4 separate regions of the Homo sapiens genome follow, and all the other regions are linked to region 1. Evidence: fine-mapped expression QTL. A gene starts in region 1. Each other region holds a variant in brackets. All regions are shown on one strand. Distances are from middle to middle. Region 1 holds the start of DPH5-DT (DPH5 divergent transcript). Region 2 overlaps DPH5-DT (DPH5 divergent transcript). Region 3 overlaps LOC101928334 (a long non-coding RNA gene). Region 4 has its middle 76 kb from the start of EXTL2.

Region 1 (5,154 bases):
GGCTGGGTCCAGCTTCAGGTCTTGACTCTGTAAGTAGTAACTCCAGAAGTTTTGTCTTTGGAAAAAAATACTTTACAAAATAACAGCAGCCAAAATTAACATTTAGCTAGCACTGAAAATTTACAAAGCACTTTCATATACATCATCTCAATAAAACACTACATAACCCTCCAACTGGTAATTGCCACTTGACAAATGAAGAAACTGAGGTTCAGAGAAGTTTGGAAATGTGAACATTGACAATTTCTATTTCTGAACAGTTTTGTGCCATATACCATAGTTAAGAACCTATGCTAAGAATTATGCTGAACACCTAAAGTAGATGTTTTTTACCCCATTTAAAAAAGACACTAAAGTTAAAGGACTTGTCCAAGGTCACATTAACATGTAACAAAGATAAAACTATAACCAAACTTTCCTCTATGCCATCCCCTGATATCTCATTCTATCAAACTGCTGTTTTGTTATTTGTCTGTCTTTTCTTGAAGGTGTTAAGTTCCTTTTACTTTTCCTTAATCACTGATTAGAGACGCACATTTCCATCATTTCGAGCTTAGATATTTTGGTTCTATCCTAAGAGTGAAAAAATGAGAAAAAAAAATGTTTTTTAAATCAAAGCTGGCCTTAGGCTGGGTGTGGTTGCTTGTGCCTATACAATCCCAGCACTTTAGGAGGCCGAGGTGGGCAGATCACTAGAGTCCAGGAACTTGTGACCAGCCTGGGCAATGTGGCAAAACCCTGTCTCTACAAAAAATACAAAAAATTAGCTGGGCATGATGGCACCCACCTGTAGTCTCAGCTACTCGAGAGGTTGAGGTGGGAGGATACTTGAGCCCAGGAGGCTGAGGCTGCAGTGAGCCATGATCATACCATTGCACCCCAGCCTGGGCAACAGAGCAAGACTTATTTTCTCTCTCTCTCCACATATATGTATATATCAAAGTTGGTCTTTACACACAACTTTTATTTAAATGCATGGCCAATTCAAGTAGCAGTTCTTAATTCCTTCTATAAGATTTTAAAGTAATCTGAGGCCTAAAAATTTTAAGTCTATTTTTTGTTTGGAAGACATGACAATAAATCTGCTCCCTCCTCCCATAACATATGTATTAATCCTTTGATTTACATTCTACTTAGAGTTTGACAATGAACCTGAAGTTGACCCTTCCCCCAAATTTACTGGGCCCTTATGAGGGCCAACTATAAATGTATAATATACTAACAAATACTTTGGTTACTTAGTGTATACTCATGTAAGTGTATACTCATACATTTTTATATATTAAGTCCAGGCTCACTCAATATATACAAGTGTATCAGTATAAGCCTTATTGGGAGATAGTCTATTTAAGATAAGATCTCTCTGGATAGGATACAAAAAGGCAATCGCCATTCCCTATGGACACACTTCAAAGGGGGAAGCTTTCAGCTTGGTTTTTGAATATATATAACCAACTCATTAAGGCTGTGTCAGCTCCTCATTAGCACTCAACTCAGAAAGGGTTTCTTGACTACCTCATGAAATAAGGGGTTTTGATAACTATCCCCCAGGAGTATAAAATAGCTTTCCTATTTACTGGAGAAAGCCACAAAATTAGACTTGTAAAATAGGACAAAGCACCCTTTCATTTTCCAAGTCACTTGGTTGGTGTAAAATTTCCATTCTTCTGCTCCTCAGATCATTAATGAACAAGGGATGCGTTTCAAAGGGTTTAAACAAGCAGACCTGAAAATTCTGTTCAGCTTAGTGTATGAAAATCAGATGTTAGATAGCTTTCTTCCCAGGAGGCTGGGGAACGCTCAGCACCTACCAAGGCTTCCTTCCCTACAGTTAGGACTGAGGTGTAGGCTTCCAGATACACTCGACTGCAGCGTCTAACAACTTCCAGGCCCTTGACTGTGATGTCCTTGGCATCTCCCAGGCCCAACCCGATGAGATAAAGCATTTCAAACTTGAGGAGAAGAGAGACTGCAAGACGAAGTGGACAGAAAAACCGTCAGTAACACCGAGGACATCTAAAATCTAGTGATGAACACGATGACAACCAAAGTAGCACAAGAGAAGAGGCAAGTCACAAGGAGGGGTTTGGGAACCTTATGTCACGCTTAAGAACTGGGATAAGAGGTTTTAAACAACCCTACCAGTTTTGCCTCTTGTTACACAAACCTAGGAGCAGCCAATTACCCGCTGAGAGAATCGTAGGTAGTTCTCTGGCCTTTACAAATTCTTAACTACCACCTTTCCGCAGAAGCAACTGCAAAAGCGCCGGCTCCGTGCAGAGAAAAGGCCCACGCCGCCGGCCTCACCTACGGTGCCGCAAAATGCTGGTGCCTTTACTGCACTTTACGACTAGCGGGAGGGGGCCGGGCTAGCGGGCTACTGGGCTGCGGAGACCAGAGCCCGGCTCCACTGAAGAAACCCGCCGGCTGCTGGGGCAGGGCGGCGAAAGGTCAGTCGGCCGAGAGGAGTCCGTGGAGCCACCGTTTCATAGCCTCAGGGAAAGGATCGGGCGTGCTCACGAGCCCTCTAACCCATGGCTTAAACACCCGCTTCCTAAGCCTGGGTAAGTGCAGTAGCTCTTCGCTCGAGAGGAGCCACGTGGAAGAGAGTCGGGAGGGGCCCTGCGCCCTACTCCTCCTCTCCAGAAACAGGGAGGGCTGGGAAGGATTTTCCTGATTTGTCCCCGGATTTGGCCGAGTGCACAGATTTTAATTCCAGTCTTCTCATCCTCCTGTAGTTCAACTAGGTGTCTTCCTGGTGAAGCGTGAGATTGGCAAACCCAGCAGTGAGTGTGCTTCTGATTTCCCAACAAGGCAATGACTCCTTGGGTTTGTCCCCAAGACCTTATGCCTGGAGTGCCCCAAGGATGTTTCAGTCACCCTCAGTGTCAGGAATCCCAGACCTTCCTGTACCTAAAGAAGTGACCTTTAATAGTGCTCAGGGATTTCAGACCTCTCAAGTGTTTCTGCCGGGGGAATTCTTATAAAGCTGTTGGTTACATGTAATTAGAAATAGGGAAGATTTGTTTTGACTGAAAATGCTCTTCCCAAGGTGACCTCATCCAAGTTAAAAAAGACAGCTGTCATTGCTTTTCTTAGCAGGCAGTGTTGGTTACTCAGAATTTTCCTGTTGCCTCCCCGACAATGCCCAACTCCGCTTCCTTGAACCTTGGCTTTTTTTCATTCCCAGGTTCCATCCACCTTTTTGCACTTCCTATCTATAAACTCTTCGTGGCTGTGTTTTATCCCCTCTCATTACGTTGATCTATTCCTCACACCACATACACACCCCAAAAAACTCAAAATGGATCGTAGATGTAAATGGAAAACCTAAACCTATACCAGAAGAAAACATAGGAGGAAATATTCGTGACCTTATTTAGGCAAATATTTCTTAAACCAAAAGCGTGATGAAAAAAATTGATAAATTGGACTTCAACAAAGTAAAAATTTATGCTCTTCAAAAGACTTGAAGCCACATACTGAAAATATTTACAAAGCATGTATCTGATGAAGGACTTGTATGGAGAATATATAAGGAGCACTCAGAAAGCAATAATAAAACAGTTCGTTGTTTAAAAATGGGCAAAAGATTTGAATAGACACCAAAGAAGATACACAAATAGCAAATAATTATTTTAAAAGATCTTAAACAAACAAAAAAAGATCCTAAACATCATTAGACATTAGGAAAATAAACATTTAAATCACAATGAGCTACCACAACCCACCTATTAGAATGGCTTAAGTAAAACAAACAAAACCTCACAAAAACTGGCTGTTCACTCAGAATTCCTAGTATCGCTAATATTTTGTAGATTCAAATTTCAGCCTCCTATCCAGACTTCCTCCCTCTTGGCTTCATGTTAACGTTCTGCTGGAAATCTTCACCTAGATAACCCGGAAGCATATTCAACACATCCAAGGTTGAATCCATCACCTTCCCTTTCCATTTTGCTTTTCTTTCCATATTATCTACTTGGATGGGTCGGGGGTGGGGGTGGGTGAGGAGAGTATTGTCATCAACAGATTAACCCCAGCCAGACACTTGGGAGTCACCCCCACATCGTCTGTCATGTCTGCCTGTATATCTCAATAGAAACCATACCGTCTATCACCATCTTGATTCTCAGGTCCTCATTTTGTCACTCTTGTAGCTGATAATAATGTCTCCTTCACTCAAGGGGGTCAGAGAGTTATAGTTAACAATCTGAAAATATTACACCCCTTCTAGATCCTTCTGAGGCCAAGAGAAAGTCCAGGTTTGTTAACATACCCCACAAGATCATTCGTGGTGTGGCCACTGCCTACCTTTTTAGCATCATCTCTCTCCACTCCATACCATGAGCTTTCTCGCTTTCTCTCCAGCAATACTGAATTGCTTGTAGTTCTCTGCCCACAACATGCTGCTTTGTTCCTCTACGCTGCTGCCTCATCATAGAATATTGTCTCCCATTCTCTCCTGCCTAGATCACTAATACCCATTCTTTAAGACCAAGTTCAGGAAGCCTTCCCAGAGACCCTCACCCCCCTAAGCTAATTTAGGTTTCTCCTCTTCATTACAGTATTACTCTACATATACTTACTAACCAATTTATGAGATTTTATATTTGTTCATTTGTATTTCTTCTTTACCAAACTATTGATTTAGTTAATTCAGGGACTGCATCTTATTTGTATGCTCATCTTAGGTTTAGCACTATCCCTTGCACATAATAGGTATTAAATAAATGTTTGTTGAATAAATCATTATTATCCACTAGTAGCTGAGCTACGTATTTTTCCATCTTTATTAATACAGAGGGTGGTATGTTTTAAAAAACTACCAAAAAAATCATTAATGGAATATCAAATATAAATATGCCTGTCTCATGCCACTTTAGAAGGTCATTTGTATTGAAAGGCTTGCAACACACAAAACATATAGTTCATATGCATGCTATTGAGTAGGTAAACACATTTTCCAATGTGTTGATCATTTATGTTTTTTGTTTTCAGATTTAAAAAAATAATAATTTCAGGTAGATTCACAGTGCAAGGACACTGCCAAAAAGGATGATTAAGTAATCTGAAGAAGGTGTGGTTTATCTCCTTTCAGGAAATATATCTATATTGAAAATAAAGTTATTCTGGGTAATCAAGGAAGTGAAACAT
Region 2 (5,154 bases), 54 kb after region 1:
AGGCTATTTTCTGTTTTTGTTTGGTTTTGTTTTGTTTTCTTTTCCCTCAAACTGCTAATAACTATATACATACCACTACTTCTCGCTTCTCTTTTTTTACTTTGGCTCTAGATGGAATGATAGGGTATGCATAAATGTTCATGTGGGCTCTGGAGTATACCAGGAACTGAAGTAAGGTACATGGACGTCTTGAATATTGTAACTGAGATGGGCAAGCCTACACCTTTGCAAATAAAGGAGGATTGGGAAAGATTAAGGTGAGCTTTCTCGCAAACAGATGGGTCATGGGAATAAGGAATTCTGAATGCATGAACAGTGATGCTGAAAAGCAGGGGGTCTTCAAACTATACTCAAGGGCCAAATCATTGCCTCTTTTTATAAGTGAAGTTTTATTAGACTACTGCTCCACCCATTCATTTAAATGTGGTCTATGGCTGCTTTAGGACTTAAAATGCCAGAATACTTGTGACAGAAACCTTCTGGCCCTCAAAGCCTAGAATATACACTATCTGGCTCTTTAAAGAAGTTTGCCAACACCTGCTCCATTGTAAGGAGGATATTAGTCGGGTTCTAACAGAATTGCTTGTTGAACTAGGGTTTAAAACACATGGTAGAGACTCCACTGCCATAACCAGAGAGAAGACTGCCAAGAATTAGGCTAACTTGTTCTCAGGCAAAAAGGCTACGTAAAAGGCAGAATCTCAGTTCTGCAGGGCCAGTGCAGGAGGTGAGGAGGCAGGGGTTACACTGGTGTCCGTGGGTCATTGTTCATGCAATGGATACTCGGTCTGGTTGAGGGATACATGCAAGGCTAGAATTTGTGCTGAGTCACCAGATTTAAGATCTGGGAAAAAATAATGTACATTTCTTGACTTCAAAGACGTGGGGGCCATTAATCCAGATTTTACCCTTGTTGAACTAACTCAGGAATGGAAAACACTCTTGGTGAGGAAATGGGACACTGAATAGGGATACTTCCTACCAGCCCAAGACTAGGGTTAGGGAAGGACTCACTTATTGGTAAGAAAGGATTTTTGCCTCTACAGACCTTTACTTAGACCTGTACTTAAATGAGGTAAGAAGTGAGAAAGCAATATTTCTCAAGTGCCTACAAACCTGAGGAGTCTTTTTCCATTTGTATGTTACTCAAGATCTCAAAATGCCACAGCTCTTTAAAAGGGCTTCTTCTCTCCTTTGTATTGGTGGCTTGCAACATGCTATTTGAATCTTTCAGCAGGCTGACCTGTTTGGCTAATGCTATAACCCAAATTAATTGTTCTTTCCTCTATGTTTTTATTTATTTATTTATTTATTTATTTATTTATTTATTTATTTTTTTGAGACAGAGTCTCGCTCTGTTGCCCAGGCTGGAGTGCAGTGGCACCATCTCGGCTCACTGCAAGCTCCGCCTCCCGGGTTCACGCCATTCTCCTGCCTCAGCCTCCCGAGTAGCTGGGACTACAGGCGCCCGCCACCACGCCTGGCTAATTTTTTGTATTTTTAGTAGAGACGGGGTTTCACCGTGTTAGCCAGGATGGTCTCAATCTCCTAACCTCGTGATCCGCCCGCTTCGGCCTCCCAAAGTGTTTTTATTTGATCTTATCACAGTAGTCAGCATATTTTGCCTTGTATTATACTTATATGTGTACATGTAGTCTTCCCCCAGACTAGCCATTACTTGAGAGCAAAATTTTAGCCTTATCCGTCTAAATATCCCCCAAGTGCTTATCTAGTGAATGCCTAATTGTAATGCCTATTGACTTAAATGGAATTTAATTAAATGGGGTTTGTTATATTCTGCTAAGACTGTAGTAGATGTAGACACAAGTCTGATTCTTTTCTTATAACTACCATTTTCCCCTGTTATGGATATATCAAATTACTTACCACCCTTAACATCTCCTCCAGATTAATTTGTCTTGTGTAAGCCCCTAGTTGACCAAAGCTGATGGCTGATTAAATTCCCCCAAGGGAACTCAGCCACACAGCCACATAGGTTTTTTTTCTTTTTTGGTTGCAAAAAGCAGAAAGGTGCGTATGCAACAGAGACCATCTTAAACACGAGAATTATTAGAGTAGCTCACAGAAAGGTATCACTGAACAAGCAAGCTTCAGGAGGTTAGAAACCAGGACAATTCTGAGGACTCGAGCATTGAGAACTCATGAACTCTTTGACCCAGAGCACCCCAAGGCACCTCCACTTAAGACTCAAATTCGAAGGATCTGTGTAAGCCAGCTTGATTCAATAATCTAATTCTGTGCTCAGGAAACAGGTGGTTCCTTTTTTTTTTTTTTTAAATCAGAATTTGGAGTTAAGAGGATGCAGGGAGAGTGGTAGACAAACGGAAACAAGTGTTACCATAGCAATCTATTAGAGGGCAAACTAAGCCACCAGGAGTCTCTCAAGAACAAACAAACAAACAAACAAATGTTATGAATGACTTTTGGCTTAAATGTCATGTAGACTAAGACTGGAGGCGCAATGGAGAAGGAGGGAAAACTGAGAGCTGATAGAAGCAAAATGAAGGATAGGAGTGAGCATCCCCTAAGATGGACAAGGTGCCTTCATTTCCTAATGGTTTCTCCTCTTCTTTTCTTTGAACCTACCAATGTGTGGTTATTTTCCTTGCAATATTGTGTTGTAAGATATCCTTCCAATTTAGAAACAGAAAGG[G/A]TAGTAATTGCCTCATGTTAGAATATTTAGCTATAGAATAATAGGAATCAAAATTATTTTAGACATCAAAGAGTATGGAAAATCAAAGATAATCTGAGGCAGCAAGACACAAATCCCATTTGTCAATTCTGCCATTTGGTGATCATGATGGTAGTGATTTGAGATATGTCTAGCTAAGTACCAAGCACTGTTTTAAGTATTTACATATATTGTTCTCTCAAAAACTCTGACGTGTAGGTAGAATTATTAGCCTCATTTTACACATAAGAGAGCTAAAGTATACAAAGAATAAGTAATGGAGCCAGGATTCAAATTTCCTAATTCAACATCAAAGCCTAAATTCCTGAAAGTGCAAGTCTCTCACAAACTTCAGGAATTCCACAGCATACCAGAAATCTTAAGTTTTAGGGTGGTTCGAAACCTTATAAATCCCTTTGAGTCAAAAATTTCTCTTTTTTTCCAGATCCTGTTAAACGTCAGTGTTACTATTTAGCCTTTGATATCTCCAGTAAAGGCAACTTCTTTCTGGACCCAGAAATAAAGCTTTACATTAGCAGCTTCCATAACACCAATAACATGAATGACCATCTACTGAGCAATTGCAGTGCACCAGGATTATGGCTTATGAGCACTTTATGTTTATTATCTCACAACTCACTGAGTTAGATACTCTCCACAACCCAGTGAGGTAAATACTATTACTTCCACAGTATATATTATTATATAATAAAATGCTTAGAATATACACACAGTAACTAAACACTACTTATAAAATATGGCTCTAGATATGTTTGATAAATATTTCCTTCATGAAAACATGGAGGAATTAATTAGCAGTATCTCTCTGCAGCCTTTAGCCCTCGAGAATCATGTAGAAAAGAGGAGCTGTCTTCTCTTTTAGCAGAACATCTGTCAGAGATGGTTTCCCCTGACTTAGACAATTGTGTTTTTTTCCCTTCAGAATGATTGAGTCTCAGAATTGTTCTTTAATCCTCAGTATTTCCATTAAGAAGAGCTTCTATCAAGTGCTTCAAAAGTACCCAATGTGAAGGAGTAATAATGACTCCCTGCTGGTGAGCGAAGTGTGGAGGACACAGGTCCCTCAGCCGTCCACTGGATGCTGCACTGTTTGGCCTGAGCCAACATGGGCAGAAATACAGGCGGCAGCATAAGCAGATGCCAAGAACCTGTCTTGCTTCTACTGTTTTCATTGGGTTACTATATCTCCTTTGTAGTCCAACCTGCAAATTACTTTGAGAAGGGGAGATACACCCCTGGACCAATCTAGGACTATATTTGTTCCCTTGCTAAAGTAGGAAAAAAAATACAGAACCTTTAAATATTGAACTCAAGGGCAACTAATTTAAATTCCTTTCCTTTCATGTTGAAAGTCTTTTGACTGGGTTATTCTGAAGCCATAGCAATTAGGTTACAGTTTACTTCTCTGTTACTTTACCATCTTTAAATTTGGCACCTTCAAAAGGTTGTTCTGTGCGTTTAAAAAAAAAAAGGAACTACCGTTGGATATTGTATTGTTGATGACCATTATTTGATTCTGGATTCTTTTGTGTGTTTGTGTTTGGGTGTTTTTGGTTGTTGTTTGTTTGTTTTCTAGAGACGGGGGGTCTCACTATGTTGTCCAGACTAGATTCGAGCCCCTGAGCTCAAGGGATTCTCCAGCCCCAGCCTCCCGAGTAGCTGGAACTGCAGGCACCCGCCACCACGCCCAGGGACAGTTACTTGATTCTTAATAGTCCAGTCATAATGAGACAGGATACTGCATAAGCCAAAGACCACACAAAGTATCAATGTTAAGTATCAAGAGGGTGTGGAGGAAGTGGGTTACAACCACTTTGTCTCCCAACTGTTGTATGTTTTGCCTTTAAAAATTTTTTTAAGTACGTTAAATTCTAATGTACTCAGATGTGGCTGAAACAATGACAAAACATTAGTTTTCTTTAAATATGCGTGACTTTTAAGCTTTTTCCCTTTCCCAGTGACTTGCTTCTCCACTAAGCTCTTTTTTTCTTTTTTTTTTTTCCTCAAATATTATTGTTTCATGTCACTGTGACAAGTTTAGTCTACTGGAAATTCCTATGTCCTCTGTAATTTAGGTTTTAAGCAACATATGATTTATCTTGTTATTTTAAAAAAACTATCTGCCTTCCCTAAGTGGGCAACTCTCTGGCATCCTTAATATTCTTCTATAGAAATTGTGATGAAAGAACAGATAAGCCTAAGTAAATCTAGCGTGTGGAGCTCCTTTAAAATGTGAAGACCTTGCCAACTGGTTAAAAATAAAACTTGGTTTTGTCCTAAATATCCTTGCTGGGCCTATTATACATAAAAAAAGGGGCCACAGCCCATTTGCAAGGCTTCTGAATGAACTCCATTCATTCTGTACTTGGAAATGTCTCTTCAGCCACAAAAAGAAACAATAGTTATAACCTAATTTCTTTGGTGCCAATATCAGCAGAAGA
Region 3 (5,154 bases), 130 kb after region 1:
TTAGGGTTAACTCAATGTTCCATTGAGTTGCTATACGTAAAACTTTAAAATATTACACAAATGTTAGTAGCCCCATGTTGAGGATGTTTGAACATGATCTGTCCCAATCTTGATCTCCTCATTACATAAACCGGATCTGCTCATAGAACATGATGCTAAGACACATGCAAAAATGTGGCCCAGCCATTTGGACCTGCATTTTATTCTCTAGCCACTTGGTTTCCCAGTTAATGAGCAAGGATCTCATTGACCACCTAGGTCCGCCTTGTTTAGATGAGCATTTGGACCCTGAGATGTTCTTACCTCAGCAGTGTTTTCTTCAGGTAACCTTTGATGCTTTCCCTCTTGTTCCACACATTATATAGTATGGGGCAAGAGACACTCCTGTCTTCTTTCTTGGCCTCTTTCAGGCTGAACTAAACCCAGACAAGCCTTCACTGGAGATGGGGAATTGGATAAATATGGACACAACTGGAGATACAATGATGAAGAGAATTTAAATAACTCAGTCTGTTCACTAAATAAATCTAGATAAAAATAAATACTTACAATAAGAAAGCTTAAGGGAAAGTGACAAAACAGATTTTAACAAGGTATGCAGCTTTCTTTGGGGTATTAATGGTTTATTTTTATTTTTATAAAAATATCTATTAGCAGTATTTATATAGTGAAAAATTAGACAAAGAGCAAAATATTTAACAAAAACTTTATTGTATTTTTTCTATTTTTCTTTCTTAAGATTTCATTTTGAAAGGTTTCAATTTATTAATCAGAAGTTTGCCTCAAATCAATGCTACACAGCAACTGCTGAAGTAATTTTAGTTACGTGTTAAGTTAAAAATTCCCCTCTAAACTGCATGTTCAATCAACTTTCACTGTGAAATAGGATTTGATGACATTTAATACTGACTCTCTTGATACAAAGGGTTGGGAAAAGGTCATTGAGTCAGTTGACATTTGCTGTGTGCCCACTGAGAGTGTGACTCTGTAGTAAGTATTATTATGTAGTAAGTATTAAGTATGAGGCACTTCATGGATCTGAAGGACTCCTCGAAAGTGAGACTTATTCAATGAAAAAGAAACTTTTATATGCTTACTACTCAAACTCTGGTGAATTTTTTCACCTTTATTTGTACTTGGGTCAGAGGGAGCTGTGACATCAAGGCAGTGATAAAGAAATAAGCCAGGGACATAAGGAATGGTATGGTAGGAGAACAGATGTAATTAAATATAGGTAGCTCCAAATTAACTAGTACAGTGCTAAGACTCTTCTGAATGCTCAGTTAATATTTATTGATGAGGCCATTCATACGCATACATCCTTTCTTTCCCCAAATCCCTTTGCAGGCAGCACATTGGAGGTTGTCTGGGCTCTGAAGTTCATCTTATAATATTCTCTGCATAAAATGAAATACATTCTGAGGTCTGAGACTGTTCGAGAACTTTCAAATTCTTTTTTCACTTTTATAGTCCCCATATAATTTAACTTTTCTAAAAGTTTATAGACATGTTCATTTGGTTTAAAATTTTTTTCTTTCTTTCTTTATGGCGGTAAATATACATCATATAAAATTTACCATTTTAACCATTTTTAAGTATATAATTCAGTGGGATTAAGCACATTCACAATATTGCATTGCTTTTTGTCTAGCTGAATGGGATTCTCAATGTGCCTGTGACAGAGATGAATGAAGTATTAGCTAAGAAACAATTGTAGTCAGCTTAAAGGACATTCCATAATCACAGAATACTCAGTAGGGGACACAAATACACATCACATAGGAATTGAGTAGATCCCAAATACCATCCAAAGAGGCAGGAAAGCCCCATAACTGCTGTGTCATGTGCAGCATCAGATCTTTGTTGGAACAGATTGTCTTATAGCAGGCCAATACGAATTTGTCATTGATGCATAATTAATGAACTGAAAAATGGATGAATGAGATTTCTCTCTAATTAATGTGTCCCTAATATCTGGCACAAAAGCAAGCTGTATTAATTAGTAGAGTGGTTGTTGTGTGTGTGTGATTGTGTGTGGATGTGGCGTGTCTGTCTGTAAGCATAGTTTGACATGTTTTATTTTTCAGCCTGTTTCTTTGTCTGCTCTTATCCTTCTTCCTAATTCCTACCCTCTCATCACTCCTTTTGTTCTTCTCAGAATTGCATTTTGTTTTTATATGTGGATGAGGGAGAAGGATGACAGATTGAATGATTCCATTTTTAGATGGATGTCTGAGCATACATGAATTAATCAATATTTCATAATCTAGGTGATGAAAGCCCCTCCTTTTTTAAAGCATGAGGACATTATGCTTTGTGTGTGCAGCTTAACTACTATTAAGGTTAACGGAAATCAGGCGACAAAGCCCCTTTCTTGAGTTGATAACATGCACTAGTGTGCATCATTGTCAATTATACATACACTCTTAATCACTTTGGGAGGGAGGAGAGGTAAATCCCGCTGCTGAGCCAAAGCACCTCATGTAAGGATTATTGGCCAGCATTAGGATCTGAACTTAAAATCTGAATTCTCTATTTTCTTTCTAACTTATTCTACAATTGTTAATTAAGTCAAATATTCCCCTAGGAAATGAGTGAATGTGTGGGTGCTTGCACATGGC[G/GT]GGGGGAAGGGGGTGAAAATAAAAAACACTGAAGGCAAAGAGGAAGAATATTTTTGCATTCGTATTTTAGGACTACTAAAATGTGTAGCTTGTTTTTATAAAATCTTGAATCTGAATACTTGTCTGCAGATATAATATCTTCCATTAGGTGTATAGTTCTGGTATTTTTAGTTCCAGGTGTGAAATAACCTCTATTGAAAGATTTACTCCTCATTTGGCTAGACATTTCTTCATTCAACAGATATTTATGAAGTCTATTCTATGCCAGGTAGTAAGTGCTGTGAAGATAATTAGGCTTTTACCATCAAGTAGCTCCTTGACTAATGAGAAAAACTGACATATAAACAGGCATTTAAAAATGTATGAGCATTCAGTTTGCTAGAGTTTAAATTCAAGCTCAAGACTGATGAAAGGAGAGGCTGGAGATGTAGGGAGAGGGCACATTGTGGAAAGTCAGTCCAGCAAAGATGCTGTAATGAACAATGATTTGAAATAACAGAAATGGAGTTCACACTCCCTGACAGTTTAGCACAAGCCTTCCAGACTGTGGCCCTACCTAGAGTATTGAGTCTTCTGCTAGACCTCCTGCATCTGCCTACATCCTGGAGAAGAGAGGGAGGAGTTAGGCCTGAGTCCACCCTGGAGTGGCACACATCAGTTCTTCCCATGGTGATCATATGACCCAGTTTATGCCTGAATTCTCAGCACAACAATTAATAGTGCCCTCTTTCACTCTTAACAGTGTCTCGGTTTGGACAATAAATTACATGATCACATTAATTTCTCCCATATTCTATGAGTGAGAATTCAATCACATGGTCACACCTAACTTCAAGGGATGCTGGAAATCCTATGTGATCAAGAGGAAAAGGCAATGGATATTGTCGAATGCAAGGCAGTTTCTGTTGCACATGTCAAGAGGTTTAAAACTTTATTCTCCATATCCATTGACTTTTGAACATGCTCACCTAAATACGAATATTTCTTTGAAGTCTTCCAGTATATTTTGCAAATTCATAGGGATCATGCATCCTGCTCCATATACGTGTGTTTTTCTTAAAATAAAATAATGTACTTTATTTCTTCAAAAATCTATACAAATAAGTAATGCTCCAGGAATATGTTCCATTCTTTGTGGGAGAAATTCTTTGCAGGTATGTGCAAATTATGTATCTGCATATATAGAGATATCCAGCAGACTTTCAATAAAATATTAAAACATGTTTATTTCTGATGGTAGAATTGGAGATGACGTTTCCTTTTTCTCTGCATTTTTCCACATCATTTTGGAATTTAAGAACGGTTTTTATTAGTTTTATTAGTGAAGTTAGTTTTTATTTTAGTTTTATTTCATTTTTATGAAGAGCCACCTCATATAGCATTGGCTGTATGAATATCCAACTTGGAACACACAGCACTGAACAAACAGTCAGGTAGAAGAATGACCTGGCCAGATTTTCATTTTAAATAGGACATTCTGACAGCTGCATGGAGTGCAGATTCCAAAAGACAGAGACTGGGAGCAGGGAGACCAATCCAGACTGTTATAGGTATCTGGATAAAAGACGATAGAGGATCTGATCTAGGTTGGTGATAGTAGGAATGTTTGGAGATTAAATCAGTAGAGCTAAATAAACCAAAAAAGAATTATTGATAAATTTGACTATGTAAACAGTAAAGGTTTTGCTTCTTCAAAACATCATAAAATTAAGTTTAAAAAGTAAGGGACAAACTGTAAAAAACACTTGTGAGATATGAATGATAAGAAAGATGGGAAAGGTTGGCATCCTGGATATATTAAGAGCTCTTAACAATAAGAGAAAAGTATTCTAATATAAAAATGAACTCAGCAATTTATCAAAGAATAAACATGACCTCCAAAATGTTAAAACCTGACCAAAGATAAAAAAATACTGGAAATAAAAATACAATCTTCATTATCATATTAGTGAAGATAGTCACAGAATACAGTACAGATATATGTACAAAGTATTCATCTTGGAACTGTTAATAACAATGAAAATTGAGAAAATAATTCTTTCAACGAAAGGTTTGTTAATAAATTATTATAGATCCCCCTATTGGAATATTAGGTAATGATTAAAAATTATTGCATAGATATATAATATTGAAATAGAAAGTTGTTTGTGCATCACAATGCCTGTGACCTATTATTAAGTAAAAACTGGTTATCAAACTTCAAGTATAACATGCCAACTTTATGTAAAATTCTTTTTGTGTGTGTGTGTGTGTGTGTGCAAAACATATATCTGCATATGTAGGGATACCTAGAAGACTTTCAATAAAATATTAAAACATGCTTATTTCTGGATGGTAGAATTGCAGATAGCTTTTCCTTTTTCTCTGTATTTTTCCACATCATTTTGGAATTTTAAAATAGACACCATGCACTATTCATATAATTTTTAAGTAAACAAAGCCTTATTATTTGGGGGAAAAACAAAAGCTAGTAGGTATTTTTTACTCCAAGGGTGTAAAAAATAATGAGGACTTGGTGATTGATTGATTATAG
Region 4 (5,154 bases), 210 kb before region 1:
AGCGGAAAATCAAATCAAGAACTCAACCCCTTTTACAATAGCTGCAAAAATAAATAAATAAATAAGTAAATACTTAGGAATATACCTAATCAAGGAGGTGAAAGATCTCTACAAGGAAAACTACAAAACACTGCTGAAAGAAATCACAGATGACACAAACAAAGGGAAACACATCTCATGTTCATGAATGGGTAGAATCAGTATTGTGAAAATGACCATATTGCCAAAAGCACTATACAAATTCAATGCAATTCCCATCAAAATACCACCATCATCCTTCACAGAATTAGAATAAAAACAATTTTAAAATTCATATGGAACCAAAACAAAGCCTGCATAGCCAAAGCAAGACTAAGAAAAAAGAACAAATCTGGAGGCAGCACATTACCTGATTTCAAACTATGCTATTAGGTCATAGTCACCAAAACTGCATGGTATTGGTATAAAAATAGACACATAGACCAATGGAACAGAATAGAGAACCCAGAAATAAACCCAAATACTTACAGCCAACTGATCTTTGACAAAGCAAACATAAAGTGAGGAAAAGACACCCTTTTCAACAAATGGTGCTGGGATAATTGGCTAGCCACACATAGAAGAATGAAACTGAATCCTCATCTCTCACCTTATACAAAAATCAAGGACTTAAATCTAAGATCTGAAACTCTACAAATTCTAGAAGATAACATTGGAAAAACCCTTCTAGACATTGGCTTAGGCAAGGATTTCATGACCAATAACCCAAAAGCAAATGCAATAGAAACAAAGATAGATAGTTGGGACTTAATTAAACTAAAGAGCTTTTGCATGGCAAAAGGAACAGTCAGCAGAGTAAACAGACAACCCACAGAGTGGGAGAAAATCTTCACAATCTATACATCTGACAAAGGACTAATATCCAGAATCTACAAGGAACTCAAACAAATCAGCAAGAAAAAAACAAACAATCCCACCAAAAAGGGATAAGGACATAAATAGACAATTCTCAAAAGAAGATATACAAATGGCCAAAAAACACATGAAAAAATGCTCAACATCACTAATGATCATGGAAATGCAAATCAAAACCACAGTGTGATAACCTTACTCCTGCAAGAATTGCCATAATCAAAAAATAGTACATGTTGGCATGGATATAGTTAGCAGGGAACACTTCCACACTGCTGATTGGATTGTAAACTGATACAACTACTATGAAAAACAATGTGGAGATTCCTTAAAGAACTAAAAGTAGAACTACCATTTGATCGAGCAATCTCAGTACTGGTTATCTACACAGAGGAAAAATCTCAGTACTGGTTATCTATCCACAGGAAAAGAAGTCATTATATGAAAAAGATACTTGCACACTCATGTTTATAGCAGCACAATTCGCAATTGCAAAAAGGTGGAACCAACCCAAATGCCTATCAATCAATGAGTGGATAAAGAAACTGTGATATATATATATATATATATATATATATATATATATATATATATCTCACATATACATATATGTATATATCACATATACATACACACACATATATATCACATATACATACACACACATATATATCACATGTACATATATGTATATATACATATATATCACATGTACATATATGTGTGTATATATATACACACATATATGTATATATGATGGAATACTACTCAGCCATAAAAAATGAATTAATGGCATTCACAGCCTCCTGGATGAAATTGGAGACTATTATTCTTAGTGAAGTAACTCAGGAATGGAAAACCAAACATCATATAGTCTCACTCATAAGTAGGAACTAAGCTATGAGAATACAAAGGCATAAGAATGACACAATGGACTTTGGGAACTCAGGGGGGAAGGGTGGGAAGGGGGTGAAGGATAAAAGACTACAAATAGGGTGCAGTGTGTACTGCTCGGGTGAAGGGTGCACCAAAATCTCACAAATCACCACTAAAGAACGTACTCATGTAACCAAACACTACCTTTCCCCAATAATCTATGGAAATAAAAATAAAATAAAATAAATAATTAAATACATAAATAAAAATTTTTTAAAAAGGAGGACATAGTCCATAGTGTCAAATGATGATAATAACTTACATAGGAAAAAAAAACTGAAAAACATCGTTTGGATTGGCAACTAAGTGTTCACTAGTAATCTTGATTCAAGCATATTCAGGTGGAGGGCTGAGGACAGAAATCAAATGGCATTTGGTTTGAGGAGTGAAAGGGAGGTAAGGAAATTATGTGCTACTTTTTTAAGAAGTTTGATGTGAAAAGAAGCAAGACATAGAATAATGTCTACAGCAGGGTTTGGCAAATATTTTTTGTGGAGGTAAAACAGTAATTTTCAACAATTCATTGTTATTATAGAAATATAATCGCTTTTTGCATTTCTCTTGTAATCTTGCTAAATTCACTTATTAGCTTTAGTAGCTTTTTGGAAAGCCCTTAGAATTTTCTAGATAGGTGATCATATTATCTGAGAATAGTTTTACTTCTTTCCTACTAATATATATGGTTTTTATCCCTGTTTGTCCTTATTGTATTGGCTAAGACATGCAGTGCAATGTTAAATAAAAGTGGTGAGGGCAAACATCCTTGCCTTTTTCCTGAACTTAGAGGGAAAGCAATTTCCTTTCACTATTAAGTATAA[A/T]GTTAGCTGTAGCTTTTGCCTAGATAAATATTTTCAGGTGAAGAAAGTTTCCCTTTATTCCTAGTTGAATACAAATTTTTAAAAAATTACAGTGGGTGTCACATGCATTTTATTCATCTATTGAGATGATGTTTTTATGTGCTATTATGAAAAATTGCATTGATTTATTTAAATACAAATACAACTTTGCATTCTCAGGGTTGACAGGAGTCTGACTAGGGAAGTTTCTCAATAACAATCAATACTAATGACATTAGGGTGGGGAGGCAACTAGGGTACTAGTGACATTCTTGGTTGTGGGAGACTGCCCCGTGCATTGTAGGATGTTTGGCAGCTTTCCTGACCTCTACATTCCAGTACCACCTCCCAACTGTGGCAACAAAAATGTCTCTAGACATCATTAAGTGTCCTCTGGGAGGCAAAATTACCTCTGGTTAAGAACGACTGACCTAGAAAGTTAACAATTCTATTGTTCTTTACAAAGGTCTAGCTTTGGGTTTCATTGCTTTTCCCTATTGTTACTCTGTTTTTTATTTCAGTGATTTCTGCTCTTACCTTTATGGATTCTTTTTTTCTTTATTTGAATTTAATGTACTTTTTTTGTAGGAGCAAAAAAGGTGGAAACTTTGATCATTGATTTTTAAATCTTCTTTTCTAATATAAGCATTTAATGATATAAAATTTCTGCTACAAGCACTGATTTAGAAGAATTCTCTAGATTTTGTTTTTGTTTTCATTCACTTGAAAATATTTTCTAAATTCCCTTATGATTTCTTCTTTGATCCATGAGTTATTTAAAGTACATGTAAAGTATATGGTTTAATAGCTAAATATTTAGGATACTTTTTAGATATATTATTAATTTATGGTTTAATTCTGTTGTGGTCAGAATATACTCTCGTTATTTAAATCCTCTTAAGCTCAAGACTTATTTATTGGGAAGACACTTCCAAGATGGCCAGATAGGAACATTTCCGATCTACAGCTCCCAGTGATATCAATGCAGAAGATGGGTGATTTCTGCATTTCCAACTGAGGTACCTGGTTCATCTCATTGGGACAAGTTCGACATTGGTTGCAGCCCACAGAGGGTGAGCCAAAGCAGGGCGGGGGCATCACCTCACCCAGGAAGTGCAAGGGGTCGGGAGATTTCCCTTTCCTAGCCAAGGGAAGCCAAGAGTGACTGTACTTGGAGGAGCAGTACACTCCTGCCAAATTACTGCTCTTTTCCCACAGTCTTCACAACTGGCAGACCAGGAGATCCCCTCCTGTACCTGGCTCGGTGAGTCCCACACCCATGGAGACTTACCCACTGCTACAGCAGCAGTCTGAGATCAACCTGCAAAGCGGGAGCTTGGCGGGGGAAGGGGTGTCTGCCATTGCTGAGGCTTGATAGGCAGTTTTATGCTCGCAGCGTAAACAAAGCTGCAGGGAAGCTTGAATTGGGTGGCGCCCCCTGCAGCTCAGCAAGGCCTACTGCCTCTCTAGATTCCACCTCTGGGGCAGGGCATATCTGAACAAAAGGCAGCAGACAGCTTCTGCAGACTTAAATGTCCCTGCCTGACAGCTCTGAAGAGAGCAGTGGTTCTCCAAGCACGGCATTCAAGCTCCAGTAATGGACAGACTGCCTCCTTAAGTGGGTCCCTGACCCCTGTGTAGCCTGACTGGGAGACATCTCCCAGTAGGGGCCAACAGACACCTCATACAGGCAGGTGCTCCTCTGGGCTGAAGCTTACAGAGGAAGGATCAGGCAGCAATATTTGCTGTTCTGCAGCCTCCACTGGTGATACTCAGGCAAACAGGGTCTGGAGTGGATCTGCAGCTGAGGGGCCTGTCTGTTAGAAGAAAAAGTAACAAACAAAAAGGAATAGCATCAACATCAATAAAAAGGACATCCACACAAAATCCCCATCAGTAGGTCACCAACATCAAAGACCAAAGGTAGATAAAACCACAAAGATGGGGAGAAACCAGGGCAGAAAGGCTGAAAATTCCAAAAACCAGAACGCCTCTCCTCCTCCAAAGGAACACAACTCCTTGCCAGCAGGGGAACAAAACTGGATAGAGAAAGAGTTTGAGGAGTTGACAGAAGTAGGCTTCAGAAGGTCAGTAATAACAAACTTCTTTGAGCTAAAGGACCATGTTCTAACCCATTGCAAGGAAGCTAAAAACCTTGAAAAAAGGTTAGATGAATGGCTAACTAGAAAAAATAGTTTAGAGAAGAGCTTCAATGACCTGATGAAGCTGAAAACCACAGTACAAGAACTTCGTGAAGCATACACAAGCTTCAATAACCGATTCGATCAAGTGGTAGAAAGGATATCAGTGATTGAAGATCAAATTAATGAAATAAAGTGAGAAGACAAGATCAGAGAAACGAGAGTGAAAAGAAACTAATAAAGCCTCCAAGAAATATGGGACTATGTGAAAAGACCAAATCTATGTTTGATTGGTGTACCTGAAAGTGACAGGGAGAATGGAAGCAAGTTGGAAAACACACTTCAGGATA

Evidence for each region.
Region 2: its variant is fine-mapped to the expression of DPH5-DT in spleen (GTEx, PIP above 0.99). The same link has a PIP of 0.9 or more in coronary artery, subcutaneous fat, tibial nerve and transverse colon.
Region 3: its variant is fine-mapped to the expression of DPH5-DT in subcutaneous fat (GTEx, PIP 0.93).
Region 4: its variant is fine-mapped to the expression of DPH5-DT in substantia nigra (GTEx, PIP 0.90).

The regions. Positions count from the first base shown.
Region 1 is chr1:101,023,498-101,028,651 of GRCh38, forward strand. DPH5-DT (DPH5 divergent transcript) reads left to right here and starts at 2,349. Exons shown (of 5, transcript NR_109849.1): 1 at 2,349-2,564. DPH5 (diphthamide biosynthesis 5) reads right to left here and starts at 2,287. Exons shown (of 8, transcript NM_015958.3): 1 at 2,186-2,287; 2 at 1,812-1,969. The coding sequence starts at 1,946. RefSeq lists enhancers at 1,817-3,016, 2,109-2,218 and a silencer at 4,010-4,069.
Region 2 is chr1:101,077,252-101,082,405 of GRCh38, forward strand. DPH5-DT (DPH5 divergent transcript) reads left to right here. Exons shown (of 5, transcript NR_109849.1): 3 at 112-257. Among named protein-coding and RNA genes, the nearest start is that of DPH5-DT, 54 kb to the left of the region's middle. RefSeq lists a silencer at 4,414-4,493. The variant G/A (reference allele first, on the strand shown) is at 2,675.
Region 3 is chr1:101,152,912-101,158,065 of GRCh38, forward strand. The region is part of intron 1 of LOC101928334 (a long non-coding RNA gene); the gene reads left to right. Among named protein-coding and RNA genes, the nearest start is that of S1PR1-DT, 81 kb to the right of the region's middle. The variant G/GT (reference allele first, on the strand shown) is at 2,622.
Region 4 is chr1:100,816,370-100,821,523 of GRCh38, forward strand. No RefSeq gene overlaps it. Among named protein-coding and RNA genes, the nearest start is that of EXTL2, 76 kb to the right of the region's middle. The variant A/T (reference allele first, on the strand shown) is at 2,646.